Linked DNA regions of Homo sapiens. The main gene of each other region encodes a partner of the protein of the gene in region 3 in a complex. Each region holds a gene or a part of one and is shown on either strand. Other genes may lie near its edges.

Region 1 (7,025 bases), on a different chromosome or scaffold from region 3:
AAATGTGGCCACCTGGTAGTCAGTTTTCACGTCTCAATTTAAATATCGTTCGTCAGGGGAGCCTTGCCCGCCTTCCCAAAATCAGAATAGGTTTCCGCCATGTATTCACCATACTCTGTACTCCTTTGTGGCATCATCATAATAGAAACTTAATTATTTCTGTATTTATTTGACAAATACTGTCTCCTCACTGGACTATAAGCTCCCTGAGCAGGGCCCTCTCATTTGTCATGTTTTACCCCACTACTTACGCAGTACCTGGCACATTGTAAGGGTTCAGTAAATATTTGCTGAATGAATGAAGGAGTGTATTCATGCACAGTGCTTCCAGCACTTCTCTGGGGACAGAAATAGAGAAATGAATAAAGCGGATATGCTTTCTGGATTGAAGTATATAAGAACTTTCAAATGAGCCATAATGCTTAGGCAATTTAGGTTATATGTAAAGGAGTCATTGACAGAATTTTAATATAAATTGTGGAAAAATGTTTGTTCTTTTTGGAGGTCTCTGAAATCAGGATTAATTTTCTAAGTGGAAATGATAAAGGAATCACTTTCATTTGCCGCAGAATTGCTGTGTAACACAGCATTTTAGAGACTTATCACTGTCCTGCTTTTTGCAAGCGATATTCATTATAACAAAATATAGACATGGAAGAAACTTCTAATGGACTCTTCTTCCCTAATGTTGTCTCGTTTTGCCCTAAAAACCTTTATTTCCTCTAGGTAGTAGTATTAATACTGTTTTATAGCTGAAGACATCAAGAAAATAAGTAAATTTACTTATTAAACTAAAAAAAGTTTAATTAAATTGCTAGAGTTTCCAGAACGTTGGTACTGGAACCATGGTTAGAATCTGGATCTATCTCCGTATTCTAGAATCCATAATTTTTTCTTTTTCTTTGCTTTTTTGTTTTGTTTCTTGCTTTTTAACCTTGCTATCTTCCTATGAATTATACCTTTAATATCACTTGATTTAGACAAGGTGGCTTTGTAAAATTGAGTAGTTTTTGTTTCAAAGGAACTTATATTTTGGGTTTCCTGAAAATTTTTCTAATACTTTTCTAATCTTATTTGCTTTATAGCTGGAGACTTAAGCATAAAAAGATTATTTTTAAAACATACAAACTGAATTTTAGGGATAAATTGTGTTAGGTTTTGGTCTTGGAAACAAGTTCTGCAGTCATTTGTAGTACCACGGTATGGCATAGAGTAAGGTCAACAGCCCTGAGTTTCTGTAGCCTTGTATGCCTTCATGGATTTACCAGTTTACTCTTCCACAAGATCTTGTCAAAAAGAGATTGCTGATAATTTGGCTTTAAAATTTGGTAATACTATCCATTTTATTATTAAAAACAAGTCTTTGCTAAATCCTAAACTTACTTTTTAAAAAGTCAGTGTTGATGTTACTTGAATCTTGGATAAAATTTTCATATTTACCTAGCATAACCAGTATGTGGAGGATAAAACTGAAATACTGCTTTTTATATGTTGTTGGATAATTAATATCATTATGATAGGTGTTACTAAGAATTTTAAGCCACTTACATGATAAGTAATTTTTTCCATAATATAAACTGTAAAAGTGATTTAGAAGTTAAATGTCATTGTTATCTATGTTATTGCATTTGAAATATTATAGTAAGCTGCAGTGTTAGAGGGTTATGCTTTAGGGACACACACACACACACAATGCAAAAAATGAAAGCACATTTATTATAGCAATTAGAAATAATTTATGTGCTGAAAGATAAACACTGTGGTTTGATGGTTCATTTTTGTCTGTATGAAGATGGTAATTTCAATTTTGTCATTTAAGCTACAAAATTTAAATGTGTCTTAAGTGTATTATATTACACTTATTTTTCAAGCTCACCCTTACATTTTTGGTTATGTATAACCATTTTTAAAATCACCCAAAAGTGATTTTCTGCTGTTCAGTTTCATTCTTATACAGTTGATAGAATCCAGGTTGCCTATAGGGTTAAAAGAAAAAGAAAAGAATTTTATTAACAAGCTTATGAACTATTGGGTAACAGCAGTGGAACATGTTAAGTGGTAGTCACTAACATATACTTAGGCTGGTCCCTTGGGAATAAGTTTACCAGAGGTTAGTCTAAATAATGACTTTTTGATTCATTTACTTATTGAATGCATATTACTTGTGAAATTGCCTTAAACCTTCTTTGGAATGAACTGGAACCTAATATAATAGCTAGCATTTATTGAGTATTAAGTAACTAAGTGCCAAGTCTCATGCTAATAAGCATTTTACAGGATCTCTTATAATCCTTACGACAACCCTTCGAGGTAGAGGCACTATTATCTCCAGTTTTTAAATGAGGAAACTAAAGTACAGAGAGGTTAAGGAACTTGCCTACGGTTGCAGGAAAAATTGCTTGGAATTAGGATTTGAATCCAGGCTGGCTGACTCAAGAGACCATGTTTTTCATCATTATAGTAAAAATGATGTTAGTGATTGAACTGCATTGGAGAGAGAAATTAGCATTAAGAGTTGTAGTTACAGAGCAGTTATGTCTTAAATGCTAAGGTCAGTGTGGCAGGCAGAAATTACTTAATATTCAAACTTTTTAAAAAACCTATTAGGAAATACACGTTGTAGACTAACAACTTCAACACAGCCAGTTTTTTTCTAGCATTGGAGTAGATTTCTTTTGAGTACCAGGTGAAGTGTTTGACTTGTTATGCAGAGACCATATTGAAAAAAGAAATATGTATATTATAATACAAGAGTCACAATCAGTGTGGCAAGCTACTCTTTGTGAGAGCTCACTGTGGCTCTCAGTCTGGTGTGGGGAGTGGCAGATCCACGTTTCTTATCTGTCTCATTCTGGGACTTTTGCATAGGGAATGGAATTATCACATACTGCAGTAGTTATTTTTAGTGAAGTTATTTTTTTGTTTGTTTTCTTCAAACAAATGTTCACCATGTCTGTTGAACTTGCATAGGGTAGGAGTATCATGTGAAGCAGGTACGCTCCCTGGAGTGTTAATGCCAAGTGGCAGTGTGACATGTCACTGTATTTCTTTACTGTCTCTCTTCCCTGCCAAGACTACATACCTTCAAGGGTATGTGCTGTTTGACTTTTCATCACCATATCTCCAACTAACACTGTTGCTGACTTAGACTGACTATGCAGAATACTGTGTTGGATACTAGGAAATAGAGAAATGGATACAACTTCTCTTTAGGGAGTTTATACTTCAGTAGATACAAGGGGAAAGGGTTGAAAGACCATTGTATGGACATTTAGTCTTTCTAATATACTAAGTACTTCCATGTGCATCAGTTCATTTTACAATTTTAGGTTAGAGCTGATAGAAAAATAAATGATTGTTTCTCTAACTGCCATCTGGTCCCTGGCACTGAAATGGGTCTCCCTGTCTTATTCAGTCATTCTCTCTTACTTCAAGATAGACTGGAATTCAACTGAGATTGAAGTTATGGAATGACAAAACCCTAAGATGTTACACACCGGCTGCCTCCTCAGACTTATATAAGGTTACTACAACAGAAGCCAGTTGGGAATGTTAAATGAGTCAGACCTGGCCTCTAGACAGCAACTGCACCCTATACGAGTTTAGATTGTTGCTAGGCTTTTTTTCATTTAATTCCAAAGCATTTGGAATCCTTTTTTTTTTTTTATTGAGAACTGCACATCTTTCTCTATGTCTTTATCCATATTAAAATCGGTATTTATGCAGTACTGTCAAAATTTGAGAGATTTCCAAGGTTCTACCTTATTTTTGGTATGCTCCCTTAAAAAATAAATCACACTTTTGCGAAGTGAAGGTTACAGGAGGAACAGTAGATGCAGTAAAAACAGATACTATCCTAGCCCTAATTTCTTCTTGTAAGAAATAGTATTTGTATTTGAGATCAATTGGGAGCTAAAGGTAAAGTTAAATGTCATCATCAAGATAGAACCTTGGCCTCATTAGCACCTAATGTTAAATAAGGCAGAGGCTATTTATTGTCTGGGGCTAATAGTTTCTGTCAACATTTGAGTGCCCTGTGGCAGTGTTTTTGGTGCAAAGAAATTGTGTAAAGTAATGAAAGTACCTGTTGCATGTTTTAGAGGATCTTAAGCCATTAGGAGTCATTAAGTTAAATTCTAGGTATCTAAGATTATAAGTGATACAAAGCAAGTAGCTCTGATCCAGGGTGGTACAGATTCTTTTAATTGTACCTTTAAGCAGAGAGGACCTAACACTCTGAGGAATTAAGTTTAGTTGAATTTCTAAGGGATTTTAAAGGAAAGCTTTAATTAACATCGTATTGGAGAAACTAAGACAAGGAATAATACTAATAAAAAGGAAAATAGACATGTACCTCAATTAAACACCAAACAACTATTCAACTAGGCATTATTCATGAACCATTAGGTTGAGAACTTTATGGGCAAAAGATGAACATATTCAAGGGGACAGATTTGTTTCCTGTCTTCCAACAAGTGTTTTCATTTAAATTTTACTCAGATCAGAATTTACCAAAAATTTAGACATAGGAAAAAAAAATGAGGATTGTCACAACTAAAGAGATGTATGTTTTTCCCCCTGAACAAGTTGCTTTGAAATATCGTAGGAGCCAATTGTTACTATTTTGTTACTGTTTCCATTTCCCATCAGCTAATTCTGAGGTAATGAGCTCTTTAATTTTGTTGTCAACTTTTGATTATCTTGTACAGATTATAAACCTTTTATGAATTATCTCAAGGGCTTTGATCACATCTTGATTTCAGTGTGCAACCCAGCCTGCTACCCAGCCTGCTTCTGGGCCATGGTTTCCTTTGTTAAGTTTATCTATGTACATTTAGAAAAGTAATTTTAACATTGGTTTGGCAAAAAGTTTTAAAATGCACCTGATGGCCAAATTCTTTTATGTAAGCCAAAACTAAGTGTATTTATGCATCCATTTTGGCAAATGGGAGATAAAAGGTTTTGAAAATATGCTATGTAGGTGGCCTTTATGACATTGTGATATCAGTGTTTGACTCTCATTGTGTATGTTATGCAGGGGCAGGACTAGGGTGAGGCAAGAGATATGCCTAGGGTACAAACTTTGAAGAAGCACTAACTCTCTCAGTCATGCAAATCAGAGCAAAATTTTGTGTTCTAGGCATCTGGTTTGCCTCACCCTAGTTGCAATCGATTCCATGTCAGGTTCCTAGAATTTTGGCTAAAATATTAATAACAATATGAATAGAATGGTTATTATGTGTTAGCCACTGTAGTAACTATTTTATATGCAGTTAGTACTCTTAATCTGGGGAAGTGAGTACTTCAGTATTTCTGTTTCTCACTAGTTTAGAAATAGAGATTTACAAAACTGAAATGATAGCATCCAGCTGAGCAAAAATTCAAACTGAGGTTTTTTTCCTTCCAAACTGAGCACTATCTCCTGCTGTATACTGTCTATCTATGTGTAGAAAAAGTTACTTCTTACCCATTTTATAAATTTCTGTATTAAGAAACAGTACTCTGGCCAGGCACAGTGGCTCACGCCTGTAATCCCAGCACTTTGGGAGGCTGAGGCGGGTGGATCACCTGAGGTCAGGAGTTTGAAACCAAACTGACCAACATGGTGAAACCCCCATCTCTACTAAAAATACAAAATAGCCAGGCGTGGTGGCAGGTGCCTATAATCCCAGTACTCGAGAGGCTGAGGAAGGGGAATCGCTTGAACCTGGGTGGAGGTACGCCACTGCACCCCAGCCTGGGTGACAGAGTGAAACTCTGTCTCAAAAAAAAAAAAAAAAAAAAAAAACAGTACTCTACAAAATATGTAAGTGCATACACTTGACATGGTGCAGTTAACTTTTAAGATGAGCTGGAAGTCTCAGCAGCACCAAGTTGAAGATCCACAAGCTTGTGCTGCTAAGTACCCTAGAGTTGTCAGACATATTAAAGAAGAAACCAAAGGATAGAGAGGTGAAATGACTTGTTCAGAGACAAAGATAGTTTATGAATGACAGGACCAGAATTTGAGCCCATGCTTTGAGACTTTAAATGCTTATGCTTTTTCCCTGTATCTTTCTGCACAAATTGTCCATTTAATATTTTTAAAGCATATATATATATATATATATATATATATATATATATATATATATATATAAACGATACAATGGTAAAGTGCTATATACACTTACCATTAACAAGAGATTGCTTCTAGATGTCCCTAAGTGTAAAATTCTGTAAGTACTAAACTGACAGTAGTGTATGTTCAGGGAGGTTAGGTTCCACTTAACTTTATTAAGAAAACTGGAAATGGAAGACATTGAATTATAGAAGATGTAATTTGCAAGTCAAGGAGAGAGATGTAGGTATATCCTTAAGACATCAAGCTCATTTTACTCTAAGTAGGATCACTGACTTACCCTATTCCTCTGCCTCCCTTTTTCCTAGCTTTCTCCTCTAAATCTTGGTCTCTTGTTTGGAAGTGACTAACAGCATTTTGGCATGAGAAAGCCCTAAAAAGGTACGTAAACTGTGTCAGCAAATGTTAACCCCACCCCGCTTTGTTAAATGGCCAGACTACCATCTATACAGTCTTTGTAAAAATCCATTTTCTCTAAGAGTTTGATGAGTGATTTTTTTTTTTTTTTTTTTTTTTTTCTTTTTTGAGACAGAGTCTCGCTCTGTTGCCCAGGCTGGAGTGCAGTGGCACGATCTCGACTCACTGCAACTTCCGCCTTCCAGGTCCAAGCAATTCCCTTGCCTCAGCCTCCTGAGTAGCTGGGACTACAGAAGCCCACCACCGCATCTGGCTAGTTTATGTATTTTTAGTAGAGATGGGGTTTCACCATATTAGCCAGGCTGGTCTTGAACTCCTGACCTCAAGTGATCCACCTGCCTTGGCCTCCCAAAGTGCTGGGATTACAGGCATGAGCCACCGTGCCCAGCTGATGAGTATGATTCTCTGTGTTATATTATTGAGAGAAAGCAAGGAATTGTCAGTTAATTGAAATCCTGGGTTAACCAACTCTTGGGGAGGACCTCCT
Region 2 (7,649 bases), on a different chromosome or scaffold from region 3:
GGATCACAGCTCACTGCAGCCCAGAACTCCTGGGCTCAAGCGATTCTCTCACCTCAGACTCCTGAGTAGCTGGGATGACAGGCGCGCCACAATGCCTAATTTTATAATTTTTTTGTAGAGATCAGGTCTCACTATGTTGCCCAGGCTGGTCTTAAACTCCTGATCTCAAGTGATCCCTCCACTTTGGCCTACCAAAGCGCTATGATTACAGGAATGAGCTACCATGACCAGCTTTGACTTAGTCTTTTGACTAATTCATGTTTATATAAGAAAGCTGAGATTTTATAAGTTAATCTGACCTGAGACAGAGTGAAGCTGGCTGGTCCCTTTGGAAGACAGAATTAACTATTAGTTATCTGCCCTATTAGTTAATTAACCAAAACATTATTAATATTATCCTCTTCTCATAACCATTAATGGAGAGAACTCCATGTGACACAGTAACTAGAGGGTAAGACTGGACCCACAGATGTTTTATATGCTATACAGATTACTTTAATACTGAGCATTTCAGTGACCAGCAATGTATTTACAGTCCAGGGCTAGGATGGAAATTGCTAGAAACAGGCTCACTCTGCATCCCAGCATATACTTAGGTATCAATGAATGTGAAACATCTTACCCAGTACCTGACACCCTGTAGGCACAGAATACATGCCAGTTTCCTTCTACAGAGCCCAACTGGAGCAGCCACTATGTTCTTGCAACTCCTGCAATACTAGAATGGCTCAAATAGGAAATTTCTTCCTCCAGTCTCTTGAACAATGACTGCTCGTGGTGAAGGAAGGGCTTCTCACCTTGGGTATCACCTCTTGGTAATAATTCTCCTTTTTTTAAAAAAACAAACCAACAAACAAAACAAACAATGCTTTATAGTTTTCTCTTTTCTCTTTCTTTCTTTCTTTCTTTCTTTTTTTTTTTTTTTTTTTTGGAGACAGAGTCTTCCTCTGTCACCCAGGTTGGAGTGCAATGGTGCAGTCTCGGCTCACTGCAGCCTCTGCCTCCCAGGTTCAAGCGATTTTCCTGCCTCAGCCCCCTGAGTAGCTGGGATTACAGGCGCATGCCACCATGGCTGAAAATGTTACAGGAAAGGGTCTCAATCCAGACCCCAAGAGAGGGCTCTTAGATCTCTCACAAGAAAGAATTCAGAGCAAGTCCATAGGGTAAAGTGAAAGTAAGTTTATTATGAAAGTGAAGGTATAAAAGAATGGCTGCTCCACAGGCAGAGCAGCTCCGAGGGCTGCTGGTTGCCCATTTTTATGCTTATTTCTTGATTATATGCTAAACAACGGGTGGATTATTCATGCCTCCCCCTTTTAGACCATCTGGGATAACATTCTGGTGTTGCCATGGCATTTGTAAACTGTCATGGTGCTGGTGGGAGTGTAAAAGTGAGGAGGACAAGAGGTCACTCTCATCACCATATTGATTTTGGTGGGTTTGGGCTGGCTTCTTTACTGCAAACTGTTTTGTCAGCAGGTTCTTTATGACCTGTATCTTGTGCTGACCTCGTATCTCATCCTGTGACTAAGAATGCTCTAATATCCTGGGAATGCAGCCCAGTAGGTCTCAGCCTCATTTTACCCAGCCCCTGTTCAAGATGGAGTTGCTGTGGTTCACACATCTCTGACAAAAATACAGGTGGGATTATTCTCATTTTACAGATGGGGAAGGAAAAAAAAAAGAGAAGTGCATGAAGACACTTCTACAGCTTCTACTCTCTACTGGATTGTGCTTTTCGCAAAGTTTCCTAGCAAGTTAGAGTAGTGAGCTCTCCAGCTGTGCTTCTGCTCCTTCACATTTGGGATTCTTTTTCCTTCTAGATCTGTATATTCTGTCTTATGCATGCCCCATTCCATTAGTTAGCCATTTTTCTTTTTCAAAAATTTTTTTAATTTGATTTTTTTTTTTTTTTTTAGAGATAGGGTCTCGCTCTGTTGCCCAGGCTGGTCTCAAATTCCTGGGCTCAAACGATCCTCCCACCTCAACTTCCCAAAGTGCTGAGATTACAGGCATGAGCCACGGTGCCTGGCCCCTCAAAGTTAGCCATTTTCTTATTGGCTATTTTTCAAATTAGGTTGATCCCAACTTTACACTATTGAAAACACCATTGCCTGAATATTATCATACACCTATCTTTATCTAAATCTGATTATTTCCTTAGAATCTATTACTAGAAGTGGAATTATGGAACCAAAACCCTCCCTGTTCTAAATTTAGCTGAAAAATGTTTTTCCCCGGGTGATACAGCTTATGATAGGCACAGGAAGATAGGTAGGAGGAAATAGCAGTGTGGTGGTTTTGGATTAATTTATTAATTTACAACAAAGACTTTTTAAGCACCTACTAGGTTGGACCTCAGGGGAAATCACTGGAGAGTTGTATCACAGGGACTTTCTGGACTTGAGCCTGGGGTGTAAAGCAGGCAATATGTAAAGCTGGAGAGACAAAGATGGATAAAATGCCTTTAAGGATTTCACAGTATAACAACAGATAATAGTAAGAGTTATTATTACGCAACACTTCTAAGATGTCTGATGAGTATCTCAAACTTGATGTGTCCAAAACTGAAGTCTTGATCTTTCCTCTAAACCTGTTTTTCTTACTCTCGAGCTTACTTATTTATGAAAGTGATACAGCCATCCACTCAGTTGCCCAAACCTAGATCAAGGGGGTCATTGTTTATTTCCCCTACCCAGCTGATAAGATTCCAGCAAATCCTGTCCCCCTACCTACACAATATAGAAATATCAACCCAATGCTCCACTCTGGTACAAGCACCATCATCTCCATCTACATGGTCCCCTAACATGTCTTGCCTTATCCACTCTTGCAACTCTCCAATCCCTTCTCCAAAAGCAGCCAGATTGAACTTGTAAACATCACACCATAACATCTCCCTGGTTAACACCCTCGAATGGTTTTCCATTTCACTTAGAATAAAATTCAAACTCCTTCCCACTACCTTCAAGGCCCTGCATTCTTCTGGTCCCTGCATTATCATTATATGGCTCTATCAATTACTATCCCTCCCTTGGCTCACTCAATTCCAGACACTAACATCAGGGCTTTTGCATTTAGCTGTTTCATCTGTCTGTGTGCCCTTCCTGGAACTTTGCAGGGCTTCTCCTCACTTCTTTCAGAACTCATCTAAAATCACACCCTCAGGCCTGCCTTCCTTGGGCAGCATGCTTATATTATAGCCACATTCTCCGCCTCCACCAACCCCTGCCCCCCGCCCCACTGCCACCTTTTAACCTCTCAATTTTTGTTACTTCTGACAAAGATTCTCTTCTTTGGCCAAAACTCTAGTCAGGCTCCTGTGAGTCCTCTGCCTACTAGGACTAACCGTTTGGGCTTCCTTTCTGTCCTTGTTGAATCCAGTTTGTGCAGGGACTCTCCACTCTTGGCGTCTTAATCCATTTTTTGTTGCTATAACAGAATACAAAACACTGGGTAATTCATAAAGGAAAGAAAGTTATTTTTTGCAGTTCTGGAGTCTGGGGAGCCCAAAGTCGAGGGGTTGCATTTGGTGAGGGCTTTCTTAAACTGCATGGTAGAGAGCCTCTCACGGTGAGAAAGCAAGAGCATGTGTGCCAGCTCAGATCACTCTTCCTCTTCTTATAAAGCCACCAGTCCCATCACAGGGGCCCTACCCTGACGATTTTATCTAATCCTAATCACCCCCTCAAGGCTCCACCTCCAAATACCATCAACATATGAACTTTAGGATTGAGTTTCCAACGTATGGAATTTGGGGGACACAGTCAAACCATAGCACTCGGTATCTGACCACCCTCAACATCTTAGCACCCTGTCCTGCTTTCAGCAATAATCCTGTTAGGTCAGTTTAGCAAGAAACTTCTTATCCTTGATGTTTCTCTTAGTAGTTTTCCGTCCACTGACCCTCATCCTGCTCTTTGGTTATAAATCCCCACTATATCTTGTTGGAGTCAGAGTTGAGTCTAATTCCTCTTCTTCACTGCAAGATCTGGTTGTAGTGGTCCCTGTAACTATCACCATGGGCTCTCTTACATAAAGTCTGCCTTACCATCTTTAATTAGTGCCATGAACAAATTTTCCTTTAACACTTTTCAGCATTTATTTCTCTATATTTGTCTATTGTTTGTCTGACCCACCAAGCACTGTTATGTACCGTGACTGCAGACACTTGTTCCTCATTTTATCCCACTGCTTGGTGCACAGGAGACATTTATTAAATGTTTGTTGAATGAATGAATGACAAGCACTTGTCACAACGGTAACTCTGTGAAGACTAGGATCCTATCCATTTTGTTCATTACAAAATTCCGCCTAAGCCTTGAACAAGGCTATGAGTTATAAGTGCAAAGCGATTTAGAGGAAGGAGGGGTAACTAAACTGACTGAAGAAGCTAAGGGAAGCCTCACAGATAAAATTACATCTAAACTGAAACTGAAAGGAAGGTGGAAAACTAAAAAGATCAACAAGGGAAGGACTGCAGACAGAATATCGCGAGGTATTGGTCAGCCAAGATGGCTTCTAACACTGGCCGCCACACTTAATATGGCGGCCAGGGAAATTTCCTGGAGAAAATCACGCGAGAGTTGCATCACGGCGGCTGTGCGCGAGTTAAGCTGGGGGTGTGGAGCAGCCAAGATGGAGCCGGCAGTCGGCGGTCCGGGCCCACTGATCGTGAACAACAAACAGCCCCAGCCCCCGCCACCTCCGCCGCCGGCAGCCGCACAGCCACCACCCGGGGCACCGCGGGCCGCCGCGGGCCTCCTGCCTGGGGGCAAAGCCCGCGAGTTCAACCGCAACCAGCGCAAAGACTCAGAGGTCAGGAGCTTCGGGGGGCGAGGCTCGCACCGGGTCGGGCGGCGCCGGGGGTCCCGGGCCCGGGGCCACTCTAGGGGCCAGGTTGGGCTTCCCGGAGGGCTCGGTAGAGTCCGGCCGAGAACTGTCACTATACAGCGAAAGGAGCAGGAAGCGAGGCTGGCAGCTCCTGGGGTCTGGAGCATGAGTCCTTGCTCTAGCTCCGCCGCCCGGGAGAGCTTCCCGTGGCCGGCGACTGCTGGTTTGCTCCCCTGGGCCCCGACTGTGGGCGTGGCCTCGAGGCCCTAGCCCCTGGGGAAGCCGCTCTCGCCCCAGCTCGGGGGTGAGGAGTCGGGGGTCTTGGTGCACTCCAGGGCGCTGGGCTGCCGCGCCCCCAACCTAATCATCTCGGGCGTCTGTCCCTGGCACGCGGGCTCCAGCTCCTGGGTCCTGCCGCTCGCAGAGGAAGGCGCGTGTGGGCAGGGAAGGCGCCGGCGAGGATCTGGAAGGAACTTAGAGCCGGACCGAGCTAATTATCATTGAGAGTAGAGTAGGAGGGGGAAACATGTCCTGTTCTTCTGACCTGAGCCAGATCAGGCCATGGGTTAACAGTACCTGTGGTGGGCTATTGTGCCCAGTGCGCCTGATACTGAACTGTTAAAGATGAGAAATAGACATTTTAAGCATGCGTTAGGACCCAACATTCCTTCCTGTCTCGCTAGTGAGCCGTTCCTGCCGTTCTGGAGATGGCATAGTCTGGAACTGACTAGTAACCTCACCCCAAGTTAAGGAATTCCTCCCACTGCCTCCTTTTGCAGAATTCATGAATGAAGATACTCATGTCGCGGAGTTTTAGGGCTTCTTAATGAGCAGGTTCCCAGAGCACTTACTATGCCATCTCCTAGATTGATCAGCAGCCAAACTGATCAGCCAAGTTAATGAGAGGGAATTCCTAGTTGTCCAAGCATAATGTACCAATTCATACCAAAGAGCAATGATACTACCTTTAGACCTGTGGAATCAGTTCCTCAGAAGCTTTTATTTTTTGTTAGCAAGGCTAAACCCCTGAGAAAACATGTCAACAATTGGCAAGCCCGAAGTAGACGTAATTTGAGCTTGGAGTGAATTATTTGAAAAAAACAAAAACACTGACCATTTAGGAGCCCTGGCATGGTGGGATGACGGACATCAGTGTTAACTACTCAGTTTTTCAAGTGGAAGATTACGAAAGTGCAGGGGGGTGAACCTACCTTCATCATGAGAGGAGTTATCATTTTGAAAAATGGTTTAAAATTTTCCAGAGTAGCTACGAATGGTCAAATAGATACCCTCTGACGAATTGTAATTTCTCTTTGTACCCTTTAATTTCCACATAGAGGCCGGGTGCAGTGGCTCACGCCTGTAATCCCAGCACTTGGGGAGGCCGAGGCGGGCGGATCACCTGAGGTCAGGAGTTCCTGTCCAGCCTGGCCAATGTGATCAAACCCTGTCTCTACTAAAAATACAAAAATTAGCCGGGCGTGGTGGCTGGTGCCTGTAATCCCAGCTACTCAGGAGCCTGAGACAGGAGAATTGCTTGAACCTGGGAGGTGGAGATTTGCAGTGAGCCGAGATTGCACCATTGCACTCCAGCCTGGGTGACAAGAGCGAAACTCTCCCCGTCTCAAAAAAAAAAATTTCCTCATAGACTCATTACATGAAAGACCAGTCAAATGGACACATTTAAGCAGAGACCTGTCTAAATCCATTTCTTTATAGAGAGTCTGATGCCATGATCTTTCTTTAGTCATAGCTGAAATCGGTAGTTTGGGAGCCTGATCAGTGAATGCCTGGAGGACAGGGAGGCTCACATTTGATGAGAGCCCACTATGTACTACATAATTTTGATTAGTCCTTAAAAATCTTCAAAGTAGATTTTCATCATTGCCATTCAATGAATGAAGAAACCGAAGCTCAGTAACTTGTGAAAGTGTACACTGTGTTATCTCTGAACACAACGTGGAGTTCTTGTTTGTGGGTATGTTTTTTGTTTTGTTTTGTTTTGTTTTGAGACAGAGTCTCTGTCTGTCTCCCAAGCTGGAGTGTAGTGGCGCGATCTTGGCTCACTGCAACCTCCACTTCCGGGGCTCAAGCGATTCTCCTGCCTTAGCCTCCCGAGTAGCTGGGACTACAGGCACGCCCCACCATGTAAAAATATATTTTTAAAAAATTTTATATTTTTATTAGAGACGGGGTTTTACCATGTTGGCCAGGCTGGTTTCAAAGTCCTGACCTCAAATGACCCGCCCACCTCGGCCTCCCAAAGTGCTGGGATTATAGGCATGAGCCACCTCGCCTGGCCATTGTGGGTATGTTGTGTCATTTTGTGGCTGGTCTTTGTCTTCCCAGGTAGACTGTAATTAAACCTAAGGACTTTACCTATTTGTTTCTCACTTCTCTCTTCCCAGTACAAGGCTTCCAAGATGGTGTGTTCTCAGTAATCACCTATTTCCAGCAGGAAAAAGATTGTCTTTGTCACATTTTCTCTTATGTGTGGGAGGGAAGTTGATCTGTTTGGCGGCTGCCTTCTTTGTCAGTTCTCACTGAAATTTGAGACAAAGGTGGGAAAGCTGAGGGTTTCAATACTCATTTTTGTCCTGAGCTGTTGACAGTCCACTAGCCAGAAAGAAGTTAAGACTTCTGGAATCATAGCATCATATGGAATGGTCATTTACTGCACAAAATACATAGAAACCTTGTATTTATTCATTTAACAAATATGTGTGTATAGACCATTCATTCATTCACTTATTCATGCCAGGTACCATGCTGGACCTTGTGAAATCATTGGTAAGTTAAATGGATGATGTTCTTGT
Region 3 (6,879 bases):
CGTTGAGATCTGAGGCTTAATGATTGGGCATAGACGTTAGTTTTTTTTTTTTGGGGGGGGTTGTTTTTGTTTTCATGGTTTGTTTTTGTTTTTGTTTTTGGAGACGGAGTTTCGCTGTTGTTGCCCAGGCTACAGTGCAGTGGCGTGATCTTGGCTCACTGCAACCTCCGCCCCCCGGTTTCAAGCGATTCACCTGCTTCAGCCTCTGGAGTAGCTGGGACCACAAGTGCACACCGCCATGCCTGGCTAATTTTTTTTGTATTTTTGGTAGAGATGGGGTTTTACCATGTTGGCCAGGCTGGTCTCAAACTTCTGACCTCAGGTGATCCACCCACCTCTGCCTCCCAAAGTGCTGGGATTATAGGTGTGAGCCACCGCCGTCCGGCCTGTTTTTTTTTTTTTTTTTGAGACGGAGTCTCCCTCTGCCGCTCAATCTGGAGGGCAGTGGCACGATCTTGGCTCACTGCAACCTCCTCCTCCCAGGTTCAAGTGATTCTCCTGCCTCAGCTTCTCGAGTAGCTGGGATTACAGGCACCTGCCACTGCACCCAGCTAATTTTTTTAATTTTTAGTAGAGACGGGGTTTCACCATGTTGGCCAGGCTGGTCTCAAATTCCTGACCTCGTGATTTGCCCACCTCGGCCTCCCGAAGTGCTGGGATTACAGGCGTGAGCCACCTCACCCGGCCCTGTTTTTGTTTTTTAAAGATTATTTTAACTCTACTAATTTAAAGTTTTGAATAGGGAATGAGAAAGGAGAGAACAATGATTGAGCCCCTAGAATTTACCAGGGACTGTTTCTTTTACATATATTGTTTCAGTTACTCTTGTGAACTGTATTGCAATAATAGCTATCACTATTCCGTAATATACCATATAGTAGGCACTATGAGAGGGGATTTACTTTTTTTCTTCCATTTAACTTCACAGCAACTTTATTAGGTGACTATTATTCCCATATTAAAAAATGAGAGAATTGAGCTGGGATTACAGGCGCAAGCTGCCACGCCCAGCTAATTTTTTTTTGTATTTTAGTAGAGATGGGGTTTCTCAGTGTTGCCCAGACTGGTCTTGAACTCCTGAGCTCAGGTAATCCACCCGCCTCGGTCTTCCAAAGTGCTAGGATTGCAGGCATGAGCCACCGTGCCAGGACCAATAAGTGATAATTATGGGATTCATAGTCCTATAGTTTTAAGGCAACTTAGGGCACCAGAACTCTAAGGGAAGGCCTTCTTTTTAAAACTTTTTTTTTTTTTTGAATCACAGTCTCACTGTATTGCCTAGGCTGGAGTGCAGTGTCATGATCTTGGCTCACTGCAACCTCCACCTCCCGGGTTCAAGCGATTATCGTACCTCAGCCTCCCAAGTAGCTGGGACTACAGGCATGTGCCACCACGCCTGGCTAATTTTTGTATTCTTAGTAGAGACGGGTTTTGCCATGTTGGCCAGGCTGTTCTCCAACTGTTACCGGTGGAGAGTGTCCAGGTTGTTGAAATCTTGAACAAAGAATTGGGGAAAGCGCACAAAGCAAGGAAAGAATGAAGCAACAAAAACAGAGATTTGTTGAAAATGAAAGTAGGCTCCACAGTGCAGGGGCAGGCCCGAGCATAGGGGATCAAGAGTCCCGTTACAGAATTTTCTGGGGTTTGAATACCCTCTAGAGGTTTCCACTGGTTACTTGGTGTGCGCCCTATGTAAATGAAGAGGATGAAGTAAAGTTACAACGTCATTTAGTTGGTGTGCGCCCTATGTAAGTGGAGAGGACATTTCCTGTTATAGCTGAAGTATTTCCATTTGATTCAGTTCTAGGTAGTCAGCCTGAATCTACTTTACGTTCCCTGCCTCCAGACCCTATTCTCCTGCCTCCTGCCCACAACTCCCAGGCTCCAGTGATCTACCCGCCTCGGCCTCCCAAAGTGCTGGGATTACAGGCGTGAGCCATGGCGCCTGGCCAAAATGTAAATGAGTCCTCGTAAAGCAAAAAAAGTATTGTGAGTAATAAAGTTGAACTACGAATTAAAATAGTTTTTGTATATGTGTGGTAGTCCAGATTATCTATACATTTAATTACATTTTGTGTCTGCTATGAATTGACTTAAAGGAATTGTCGGATATGTCGTCTCACTCAAGGCCTCATTGTTGACAAGTCTCAATTTTTTTGGAATTTAGTTCCTTGAGCTGTAAATGAGAAGACTGGGCTGTATCTCAAAGGACACTGACAGCCAAAATAAGTTATGGCACAGGGAATTTGGCCAGGCCTGGATCAATCTTTGATGATAATAAAGAATGAATTCATAAAGCAGAAACATTAATTAAGCGAGAGAAGAGAGTTCTCCATCTTTATTTGCAACCAGAGCAGACACAATGTGTTTCCTGTCCTTTCTGCAAGTAGCCATGGGAAAGGGGGGGAGGGGAGAGAGGACAGGGACAGGATGTCTTTCCCTGACATGTCACTCAGCAGCCTAGATCTTTACATTTTTTCATGGCCATCAAGTCTGATAACCCACAAGTACGTCCTACAAAACGTAAGAATTTCAGATAACTTGTTAGGGTGACAAAATAAGTGCTTAATTTCATTTGCATTTGTTAAATTGTTTTCAGGGGCCTTCCTTTTTGCCACTGTTGTAGTGTGAATTTATAGTGACATATTGTCAGACTTCGGAGAAGGCAAATATTTACAGAGAGTAACTTGAAAGGACTTTGGTGTACCTTTGGTAGGCGGATGCTGTTGCCAGTTGGCAGGTGAATCGTGAAAGAAACTGGGAACAGGACAAGTGAAAACGGAGAGGGGCCAGGATATCTAAGACCGCGCTAGGGAGCAGAAAGGGAACTTGCTTTTTCAAGGTGGTGTAGCTTTTAAATTAAGCCTTTGTGATATTTGATTATACGCCAATCTTTGATGACAGAAACGATGTCATTTATCTTAATATTCCCAGCGCAAGAGAAAACCGATAATCAAAATATTTGTTCAATTAAGTAGAGTAAAAATCAGCGGGAATAAGATAGGAAAAATGAGACCGAAATAACAGAACATCTATTATTGGATGCTAAAACTTTTACAGGATTTACTGCAGGAGGACTGCAAAGGGAAAGAAACTTCAACGGAGCAGTTTTTCAGATGGGCTGTCAACAAACCACAATTTGGAAGCAGCAGCAGAAAGCTGCGGCGTTGTCTTAGAAAGGTGATCGGCGTTCCTTAGAAATGAAAACTGGTCAGGTAACAGGTTTGAGCCCCTCGAGTCAAAAGAGAAAGGCAAGAGCGACAGCGACCCGCAGATTGGCAGAATGGAGGAGCGTCTAGGGTGAGAGAAACTCCGAACACGAAGCCGAAGCGAGAGCACGCAGGGCAGCTGGCGGGAGAACCCCGGTCCCGCGGCCGCACCGGGTAGCTCGCTTTGAGCCTGTTCCTTCACAGAACGGCCAGGAAGCCTTAAAAGATGTGCAGCTCGGGCAGGTATCTTGGCGTGACAACTTCCGTGTGTGTGTGTGTGTGTGTGTGTGTGTGTTTTTGAATGCAACAGGGTGCGCCGCCCGCGAACTTCCGCGTGCGAGGAAGACTGGAGACCCGCCCGCCCGCGCCCAGCCGGCCCCAGAGGAAACCCGCTCTCCCCGCCCAGCCGGCCCCCTACGCGGCGAGCCGGGGCGGGGCGGGCCCGAGGCCACGCCCAAGCTGAGGCACAGCCCTACAGGCCGCCCGGGCCGCGCTAGCCCGCGCCCCGCCCCGCGACTACATTTCCCGGCAAGCCCCGGGCCGCCAGCGCGCCGCAGTTGACCCATTTCCCGGCCCGTCACGGGCTCGGCCGGCCCCCGCGCCCAGGAGGCTGCTCCCTGCTGACTGGGGTGTGGGCGGGAGCGGCGGAGGGAGGAGGAGGCGCTGCTTGCCGCCGCTGTTGCCTCCGCTGCTGGGCGCCGGGGCAGCTCCCCGGGTATCTGCGGCCGCCATGGACGAGCAGGCGGGTCCCGGCGTCTTCTTCAGCAACAACCACCCGGGCGCCGGCGGTGCCAAGGGGCTCGGGCCTCTGGCGGAGGCTGCCGCGGCCGGCGACGGGGCGGCTGCGGCGGGGGCGGCCCGAGCCCAGTACAGTCTCCCGGGGATCCTGCACTTCCTGCAGCACGAGTGGGCCCGCTTCGAGGTGGAGAGAGCCCAGTGGGAGGTGGAGCGGGCGGAGCTGCAGGTAAAGACCCTCCCGGCCTGGCCGTCTTCATCCCGCCTCTTTGCTCCCTTCCGCCCCGCCCCGGACCCTTCTCCCCCTCCCCCAGCCTTCTCGCGTCCCCTCCCCCTTTGCTGCCGCCCATCCCACCCGGAGCCCCGTCCCCTTCTTCTCTTCGCCTTTTGCCTTTCGCTGACCCCACCTCGACCCTGTTCTCACTCCCGCTCCTGGTGCGTTGTTTACCCTCCCCACGCCTGTTCGTCCGCCCCATCCCACTCTTAACTCCCAGACTCATTTCAACTCTCTGGCCATCCTGCATCTCAGGGCTGCCCTCTCGGTTTACTAATTGGGCTGGCAGTAGTTTTGAGAGACGCGGAGCAAATCGTCCGCTGCCCTGGTGTGCCCCTTCCTAGGTCTAGAGACAGTCTCCGCAGAACGTGCCGGCTTTGGCCCCTCTCTTCAAGGAAGGTGATCAAGAAGACAACAGAAGTTGTGTCAGGCCTTGAGTCGAGGCGAGAAGTTGACGTTGGGCAAAAGTGTTATTCATATATCAGATCCCTTTTTTTATATATGTAAATGTCTGTTCTCCACTTTCTTCCGACCCCCCGGCCCCCTCCCACGTTTCTTTTAGGTATTTCCAATTAATGCATTTTGAATGAAGGACCTAGATGATCGCAGTCAGAGAGAATGGTTAAGAGGTGGTTCCTGTTCTCAGAATCTGAAACTTCCCAAGGGTTAATTTTATGTTCAGTGTTTTGGGAGATTTTCTTGTGCTTTAAAAGGAACTAAAGGGACTTTGAAGTTAGTTACATTGCCTTGCATAATCTGCAAGATAAAGTATATCCAGGGAGGAGATAACTGTGGGCTCTGAAAAGAATGAAAGTGAGGCTGATACTTTACAAGCCATTCAGAATTGGTGAATAGGTTTTCAGTGGTTGTTCTTAAAACTTCCAGGGCATACACACCAATTTCAAAAGGAACTTAAAGAACTATGAATAGTTGTGCCTTTCTGTTTTACGGGCTAAGCCTGTATACTTATGAAATTTGAGTATAGTTTTAGTTGGCAAAACACTTGAGTTTAAAATGCTACCCAGTGTGTCACTTTTTTTGGTAACATGTATTTGGCGCTTAAGAAAAAAAAGAAGAGGAGAAATCTGTTAAATAGAATCATGTGCTGGAACAGGCTCTGGTGTAGTGGAAGTGGCTGTGGAAAGAGCGAACACACAAGGCTGTAGTAGACAAGGTTATAGTAAGGGCTGTGTTTGTTGCTAGCTCTGTGACCTTGAGGAAATCCTTTAACCTCTCTGGGTTTCAGTTTTATCATGTATTTTATTCAGCACCTGTGTATTGAGTGCCAGCTGTGTGTCTAGGCCCTGTGTTGAAAGAAAACCGACCAAGCTTCTGCCCTCATGGAGTTTATGTTTTAGTGGAGAGGCAAACAGTCCAGCAAATGCGCCTATAGAATATAATGGCTTATAGTGGCAACTGCTGTGAGGAAGAAATAAGTCAGAGTTCAGGAATAGCGTGTGATAGGGGCAGCTATTTTAGATGGGGTAGTCAGGGTAGGCCTCTGAGAGATGACAAATGAGCAGCTGAATGAAGTTAGGGAGTGACCAGTAGTTTCTATGATTTCCTTGTAAGTCTGTAGTTACATGTTTATATTATTTGGCAACTTTTTCATTCCTATTGTTATATTGCTGTAGTATTTAGTCGATCTAGTCTATCTGATATTTGCAAGTCTTCTTTGACCTTGTTTATATAGTCTCCAACAAATTTGAATACTTACAGATTGATCTTTATTAGCAGCGCATTCTATAAAAGGTGTGGATTTCAGGATTCAAGGAAATGTTAAAGGCAAAGTTTAACTTTAATGTTGTGCAGTTGTGGGGAATGATTTTTGTATTAGTTACTTAAAATTTAATTTCTTTTCCAGTTTTGGGAATATAGATAACTCACACTAATTTGGTTAAAAAAAAAAAAACAAAAACAAAACACACACACACACCAGAAAACAATGCTTACCTTTCTACCTGTAGAAGTTGGGGAATTCCAACCCATCCTTCCCCCCGCCCCGCCCCGTTCACTCCCTCTCCTCGTTTAAACTTTTCAATTTACTGGTAACTGTAGTTGATCTTCAGTTTTTATGCACACATCTCCAAACACCCCTTCCTGGGTTGTTTGTGGCAAATGTTTATTAACTTCAGGTAGCTTTCCCATGGGTGCTTATCATATTAAAGAGACTCCTTTTTTTTTTTCCTTTTATTGGAGAGAGGGTCTCGCTCTGTTGCCCAGGCCGGTGTGCAGTGGTGCAGTCTTAGCTCACTGCAACCTCCGCCTCCCAGGTTTAAGCAATCCTTCTGCCTCAGCCTCCCAAGTTTAAGCAATCCTTCTGCCTCAGCCTCCCAAGTAGCTGGGATTACAGTCATGCACCACCATGCCTGGCTTATTTTTGTATTTTTGGTAGAGACGGGGTTTCACAATGTTGGCCAGGTTGGTCTTGAACTACTGACCTCAGTGATCTGCCTGCCTCAGCCTCCCAAAGTGCTGGTATTACAGGCGTGAGCCACTGTGCCCGGCCAAGGACACTACTTTTTTGACAGCATTTTCTGTTTTGTGTTCCAATTAAAGTTTCCACAGAGAAACTTTAAAAATGTGTCATTTTCCTAACAGGATGAATATGATATATTTTGGGGGGAAGAGTTTGCAGTAATCTCTGGTCTTTGTCCCCCC
Region 4 (7,025 bases), on a different chromosome or scaffold from region 3:
TCCCAAATAGCATTATGTAAAGAAACTTGATAGTTACCATTAAATTCGGATATCTCAGCCTTCATCTGGGCATATGTGTATAATTTGTGCGTATGGACACACAGAAAATTGTATACAAATAGATCGTTTCATACATTTTACACAAAACAGGGCTTAACATGAGCATGATGAGGTTTGGGGGCCAGCCTAGAAGGGGTTCCTTGAATTTCACAAAATTATCTGTAGCCCCTGCCTGGTATTTGTCAGGTGGAACTTCTGAGCAGTGAATTCATAGCTTTCAGTAGCTTCTCAGAGGACTTAGGAGCAGAAGACATTATTTTTATGAAACCGCAAGGCTTCAACAAGGGCCCCCAGGGTCTGCAACTGAGGTTGGGACTCAGGCTTGCTGTGGAGCTGGGCTGGGACCCAGGGATCCTTCTCCTACCTGGCCAGGGTCTCCCAACAGAACATTCTCAGTGAGGAAAGTCCCAGTCAAGCCACGCTTCCTTTTGGGAAGCAGTTCCCTGTGACCGATGTGCCTGACGTTCATGTCAGCCAGCAGACACATCCTGGGGCTGTCTGGGCCAGGCAGTGCTGGAAACCAGAGAAGAGTTAGATCAGAATAGCTTGTGCTTGCTCGTTGCCTGCAGTGCACATCCCAAGAGCCTTACACAGTTGTATACTGATGTTAGCTGTATTGCCCAGATGAGGAAACTGAGGCACAGGCAGATTTAAGTGAATTGTCCGAGCTGGGAAGAGGCAGAGTCCAGATTCGATCCCAGGCCCCTAATTCTTAGCCACTCCTATGTGCTATCCTCAGAGGGCTCCTGGTTGCTTTCAGAGCTGTAAACAAGGGAGGCAGGGGGGTCCTTAAACCCAGGGAAGGCGCCTAACCTGCTTAGGTGGGATGGGAAGTTGTCAGGGAAGGCTTCCTGGAGGAGGTGGCTGTTAACCTGGATTTTGACAGGTTATAAGAAATAGAAAATGGCTTTGTGTAGTTTCTTCATTCCACAAACATTGAGCAAGGTCTCTAGGCTATGGAAACCCAGAGATGTGTCAGACCCACTCCCGGCCCTTGCTCTCAGCAGTGGTGAAATGGAATTAATTACAGAGACTCCTGTAGCTGCAGTGTAAGGATTGTTTTTTTGTTTGTTTTGTTTTTTTCCCGAGATGGAGTTTCACTCTTGCTGCACAGGCTGGAGTGCAGTGGCGGGATCTCGGCTCACTGCAACCTCTGCCTCCCAGGTTCAGGTGATTCTCCTGCCTCAGCCTCACGAGTAGCTGAGATTACAGGCGTGTGCCACCGCACCCAGCTAATTTTTGCATTTTTAGTAGAGACGGGGTTTCACTTTGTTGGTCAGATTAGTCTCGGAATCCTGACCTCAGGTGATCCACCCACCCCGGCCTCCCAAAGTGCTAGGATTACAGGTGTGAGCCACCGTGCCTGGGTGTGAGGGTTGTTTCTGTGTCAGCAGCTCTTTTTATTTTTATTTTTCTTTGAGACAGAGTCTCGCTCTGTCACCCAGGCTGGAGTGCAGTGTTGTAATCTCAGCTCACTGCAGCCTCTGCCTCCCGGGTTCAAGTGATTCTCAAGCCTCAGCCTCCCAAGTAGCTGGGATTACAGGCACCCATCACCATGCCTGGCTAATTTTTGTATTTTTTGTAGAGACAGGGTTTCACCATGTTGGCCAGGCTGGTCTAGAACTCCTGGCCTCAAATGATCACCTGCCTTGGCCTCCCAAAGTTCTGGGATTACAGGCGTGAGCCACCGCATCCGGCCAGCAGTTCCTAACTCTTTTGGAATTATGGATCCCTTTGAGAATCTGTTAAATTCTGGACCCTCTTCTTATAAAAGTACACAGGATTTTAGGCGGTTCACACTCTTCCCTACCCTGTGTGGTCTCCAGGTTTGAGAACCCTTGCCCCCAGACTTCACAGAGAGGCTTCACAGTAGTGAGTCTTCACTGTGCAAAGGCATCAATTGCAGTTTCTTAAATGTGTACCTTCCTGGGCCCTGCCTCCAGATATTCTGATTGTTTTGGTCCATGCTGGGATAGGCCTCCGGGTGATTCTGCTGCAGGGTGGTCAGGGATCATCCTTTGAGAACTACTTCCTGCAGTAACCTACAGGAGAAGAGAACCTTGGCTTACATAATTACTGCTCAGCCTCTGTCCCAGGCCTCCTTATAACAGATTGCCGTAAGTTCCACCGGTAGTCACTTGGCAAGTGTTGATTGAGTACCTTCTCTGTGCCAGCCCAGGTGGTGGGAGAACTGAGGTGAACAAGAGGAACTCTGTCCCTGCAGTATCCCAGTCACACCGCACCTATGGTCACACTCCCATGATACTGTCCTGAACTTGAGACGTCACGATAGCATGAGGACCTGTGACAGTGACATTATGCTGGCTTGCTTAGTATTACATTTTTCCTTTGAATCATTCATTGCAACTATTTTTAAATGCTATTTTTAAACATTTGTTTTTATTCTTAGTTTTACTGTAAAAATATACATAGAATGTGCTATTTTAATTATTTTAAAGTGTGTAGCTCTGTGGCGGTAGGTTTATTCACATTGTGCAGCCATTATCACCCTCCATCTCCAGAATTTTTCACCTCCTCAAACTGAAATTCCAAACCCATTGGACATGAGCTCCCCCTTCCCTCTCCCCCAGCCCCTGGCAGCCACCGTAGGAGTTTGACTGTTCTAGATTCCTCATATAAGTGGAATCAGAAAATATTTGTCTTTATGACTATTAGCTAATTTCCCTTGGCATAACATCTTCAAGGTTCATCCATGTTGTAGCATGTGTTACATGAGACTTCTCACATACAAGATTCTTGAGTTTTTTTGAGGGCTGCATTTGGAAAACCAGATTTGCTTATTGCCAGCTGCATTCTCCCATAGTGACAGTCCTTGGAGCTGGGGAGCACCTGCCCTCCCTGGGCTACATGCCCTCCAGGGTGCCACAGTGCCTGCCTCTTCCTATTCATGCCTCCTGCCACCCCTGCCTGTCACCTTGGCTGATGGCATCATTCTGTTACTTGACTGAGCCCTGGAGGCATTTCCATTTATGATTTTTTTTTTCCTGCTTTAAATACCTGTCAGCCCAAGTTGAATTTCAGATCAGAGACCTCCACACCTTTATTTGAACATATTGGGATAAGTTGAGTCTCCCTTCAGTAGGTCACTAATTAAGAGTTCCTGTCTTGTGCTAAGAGTGCTGCTGGGCTCTGGGGATACAGTGGAGAGCCAGTCGTATGTATCTGAAGGAGCACAGTCATTCTAGGCCCACAGTAACAACCAGCGAGCAGTCCCGAGCCCCATAGTCCCCCAGAAACATGAGATCCCAATTCAGTCACCAGAGCTGTGTGTAACTGTTCATGGGAAGCTTAGGTCAGGTTTTCGATCCTGACCTGTAGCTATTACTAGCTTGGGCAAGCCAGGCTGTACCTCAGTTTTCTCTTCTTTTTTTTTTTTTTTTTTTTCTTTTTGAGACGGAGTCTCGCTGTGTTGCCCAGGCTGGAGTGCAGTGGTGCGATCTCGGCTTACTGCAGCCTCTGCCTCCCGGGTTCAAGGATTCTTCTGCCTCAGCCTCCCGAGTAGCTGGGATTACAGGTGCGCACCACCACACCCAGCTAATTTTTTTGTATTTTTAGTAGAAACGGGGTTTCACCATATTGGCCAGGCTGGTCTTGAACTCCTGACCTCGTGATCCACCCGCTTCAGCCTCCCATAGTGCTGGGATTACAGGCGTGAGCCACTGCGCCCGGCCCGTTTTCTCTTCTTTAAAATCAGGACTTGCTTTATAGAATTCAGTGAGGAAGAACAAGCACCCCTGGTACAACACGGAGGTCCTGCCTAGTACACACAGTGAGTAGATGTTCTACACAGTGTCAGTGATGATCATTGCACTTTGAGAGGCTAAGAACTTTCTCCTCAGAAAGCAACGTGTGTAATTTTAAGGTTTATGGACCCCAGTGAAACTCCTTCAAGGACCCCTAAATAAGAACCTTTGTGGAAGGCACGCTGACAGAGACCTTCTGCTGGCTGGCATAATATTACGTTTTTCCTTTGAGTCATTCATTGCAACCATTTTTAAAGGCTATTTTAATGAAGGTCGGGATGGGTAATAGGGAAGTTTTCTCTGAGGAGATGAGCCCATGATGGGGTGCAGGATGGGGCTCCAGGGCTGCGGATGGTGGAGAGGGAGCTGTCCAGTGACTTTGTGTTCTCACCACAGCCACCGCTGGAGTCGCTGGCCACAGTGGAGGAGACAGTGGTGCGGGACAAGGCAGTGGAGTCCTTACGGGCCATCTCACACGAGCACTCGCCCTCTGACCTGGAGGCGCACTTTGTGCCGCTAGTGAAGCGGCTGGCGGGCGGCGACTGGTTCACCTCCCGCACCTCGGCCTGCGGCCTCTTCTCCGTCTGCTACCCCCGAGTGTCCAGTGCTGTGAAGGCGGAACTTCGACAGTGAGTCTCTGCCTCCTTGGAAGCTCCAAGCTCCCATCTCAGCTCCAACCTTCTCTAAAGCCTCAGACTCCTTTTGGTCTAGCTGGGGCCCAAATGCCCCTGAACTCTCTCCACTCCCACTCCTGCTTACCACCTGATAGGCCACATCCTCGAGAGTTGGTCTCTGGACACGGCCACGTGTCAGTTTACCCACCTCTGCCCCCTTGCTCACTTAGGAATTGAGATGATGACAGGTCCTCCTTCCCACTGGTTAATGTGAGGATTTAAAAGAATTATCACACATAAAGTGCTTAGAGCAAAATCTGGAACATAAAAACTTTCAGCAACTTACATCTGATGGTATCTCCAGCCTGTCCCAGGTCCAGTGCCTTTGGCAGATAAACCACCTCAGTTTTCAGCCTCCTGCTCGTCTACTTTGCAAACGATTGACCGTCAAGCCCGGGTTTGAGCCTGACTCACTCCAGAACTCTGGTTTATGGCTGTACACTTGCTTAGATACTTACACTGGCCCCCACCGCCTTTGATCGAAGCAATTGCTGCTGAAAAATAAAGCCTTTCTGTGGCTCTAGACCTGCCTCTTAGTTAAGCAGTTTTTTGTTTGTTTGTTTTTTGAGATAGGATCTCGCTCTGTCATCCAGGCTGAAGTGCACTGGTGCAGTCATAGCCCACTGCAGCCTCAACCTCCTGGGCTCAAGCATTCCTCCTGCCTTAGCCTCTCAAATAGCTGGGACCACAGGTGTGCAACACCACGCTGGGCTCATTTTTTATTTTTGGCAGAGATGGGGTCTCACTATGTTGCTCAGGCTGGTCTTGAACTCCTGGGCTCAAGCAATCCTCCTGCCTTGGTCTTCCAAAGTGTTCAGATTACAGGTATGAGCCACTGTGCCTGGCTCGTTGGTTAAGCAATTTTTATGGGAATGATGTAATCGTCAGCACTTAGCATTGACTAGATTTATTATGCGCAATCTGCGAAGTGTCTCACACACACTATTTTCATTTAAACCTCATGCGGACCTGTGGGGTAGGTACTGTTACTATCAGCTCCGTTTCATAGGGCTGGGAAGACAGAGAGGGGGTCATCACTTGCCCAAGGTCATTCAGCTAAAACCTGGACCCACACAACTGCAGAGTCTGTGCTTGCTCCTCTCTGCCATACTGCCTGCTGCCTCAGGATCCCCGTCCCCGACTCCCAGGTACTTCCGGAACCTGTGCTCAGATGACACCCCCATGGTGCGGCGGGCCGCAGCCTCCAAGCTGGGGGAGTTTGCCAAGGTGCTGGAGCTGGACAACGTCAAGAGTGAGATCATCCCCATGTTCTCCAACCTGGCCTCTGACGAGCAGGTGAGTTTTGCTTCCTGGCCCTCTGCTCTCCCGTCCTTCTGGTGGTTCCTGCCCATGAAAGAGAATCCCAGAGCTCAGCAAGGCCTCTGCTGCCCTCCCACTGTTCCTCTCCTCTCCCTAGGACTCGGTGCGGCTGCTGGCGGTGGAGGCGTGCGTGAACATCGCCCAGCTTCTGCCCCAGGAGGATCTGGAGGCCCTGGTGATGCCCACTCTGCGCCAGGCCGCTGAAGACAAGTCCTGGCGCGTCCGCTACATGGTGGCTGACAAGTTCACAGAGGTAGATGAGCGACCGTTGACATTGTCCCACTGGTGGGGACACTGACACTCTCAGAAGGGAAGCATATAGGAGCTGAGGTTTCCATTAGGCCGATGGAACCATTGGGCGTTTGAGCAATAAGATCTCTATGATCATCTAACTGCGTCTCGCTTCGTGTGCCAATCCTGGTTGATTGACATGGCATCTTAAAGTGCTGCCTTGAGAAAGATTCTGAGGCAAAGTTAAGGCTACGTGGAGGAAAGTGCCACAGGAGCAGAGAAGGGTAGCACATGTGGGGTGTTCCTGACATAATCAAGCTGTCCTTTCACAAAGGGGAAGACAGCCCAAAAAGGTGGGGTTTTTTGGTGTTTTTTTTTTTTTTTTTTTTTTTTTTTTTTAAGATGGAGTCTGTCGCCCAGGCTAGAGTCTTGTTACCCAGCTGGAGTGTGGTGGCGCAATCTTGGCTCACTGCAGCCTGTCCCTCCCGGGTGCAGGCATTTCTCCTGCCTCAGCCTCCTGAGGGACTGGGATTACAGATGCCCACCACGACACCCGGCTAGTTTTTGTATTTTTATTAGAGACGGGGTTTCACCATGTTGTTAGCCAGGCTAGTCTCGAACTCCTGACCTCAAGCGATCCGCCTGCCTTCATCTCCCAAAGTGCTGGGATTACAGGTGTTAGCCACCGCGCCCAGCCCCGGAAAGTTTAATTAACTGATCAGAGTGACACTACCAGCCAGGCAGAAAGGGGACAAGACTCCAGGTCTGTGACTCTCAGGACAGTGCTCCTTCCACAGGGATCCAGATTGCCTCATCCCACAAACATGTTTGCTGAGCACCAGCTATTTGCTGGGCCAGTGAATTCGGATCATTCCTGGCCTTCATGGAGCTAGGCAGTCTGAAGGGGAAGACTGACTTAGGGGAAATTTGATTATAAAGTGTCACAGGTGTGGGACAGACAGACAGATGTGGGGCC

Evidence for each region.
Region 1: STRN (region 3) and PDCD10 share a complex: the UniProt entries of both Homo sapiens proteins name them as parts of the core of STRIPAK complex.
Region 2: STRN (region 3) and STRIP1 share a complex: the UniProt entries of both Homo sapiens proteins name them as parts of the core of STRIPAK complex.
Region 4: STRN (region 3) and PPP2R1A share a complex: the UniProt entries of both Homo sapiens proteins name them as parts of the core of STRIPAK complex.

What each region holds. Positions count from the first base shown.
Region 1 is NC_000003.12:167,724,878-167,731,902, reverse strand, and holds part of PDCD10 (programmed cell death protein 10), read left to right. Parts: intron 1-6,429; exon of another isoform or gene 6,430-6,502; intron 6,503-7,025. UniProt on the Homo sapiens protein: Promotes cell proliferation. Modulates apoptotic pathways. Increases mitogen-activated protein kinase activity and STK26 activity. Important for cell migration, and for normal structure and assembly of the Golgi complex.
Region 2 is NC_000001.11:110,030,000-110,037,648, forward strand, and holds the start of STRIP1 (striatin-interacting protein 1), read left to right. Parts: upstream 1-4,624; 5' UTR 4,625-4,638; coding exon 4,639-4,818; intron 4,819-5,409; exon of another isoform or gene 5,410-5,440; intron 5,441-7,649. UniProt on the Homo sapiens protein: Plays a role in the regulation of cell morphology and cytoskeletal organization. Required in the cortical actin filament dynamics and cell shape. Part of the striatin-interacting phosphatase and kinase (STRIPAK) complexes.
Region 3 is NC_000002.12:36,963,524-36,970,402, reverse strand, and holds the start of STRN (striatin), read left to right. Parts: upstream 1-3,866; 5' UTR 3,867-3,939; coding exon 3,940-4,173; intron 4,174-6,879. UniProt on the Homo sapiens protein: Calmodulin-binding scaffolding protein which is the center of the striatin-interacting phosphatase and kinase (STRIPAK) complexes.
Region 4 is NC_000019.10:52,207,040-52,214,064, forward strand, and holds part of PPP2R1A (serine/threonine-protein phosphatase 2A 65 kDa regulatory subunit A alpha isoform), read left to right. Parts: intron 1-4,220; coding exon 4,221-4,453; intron 4,454-5,646; coding exon 5,647-5,794; intron 5,795-5,915; coding exon 5,916-6,071; intron 6,072-7,025. UniProt on the Homo sapiens protein: The PR65 subunit of protein phosphatase 2A serves as a scaffolding molecule to coordinate the assembly of the catalytic subunit and a variable regulatory B subunit.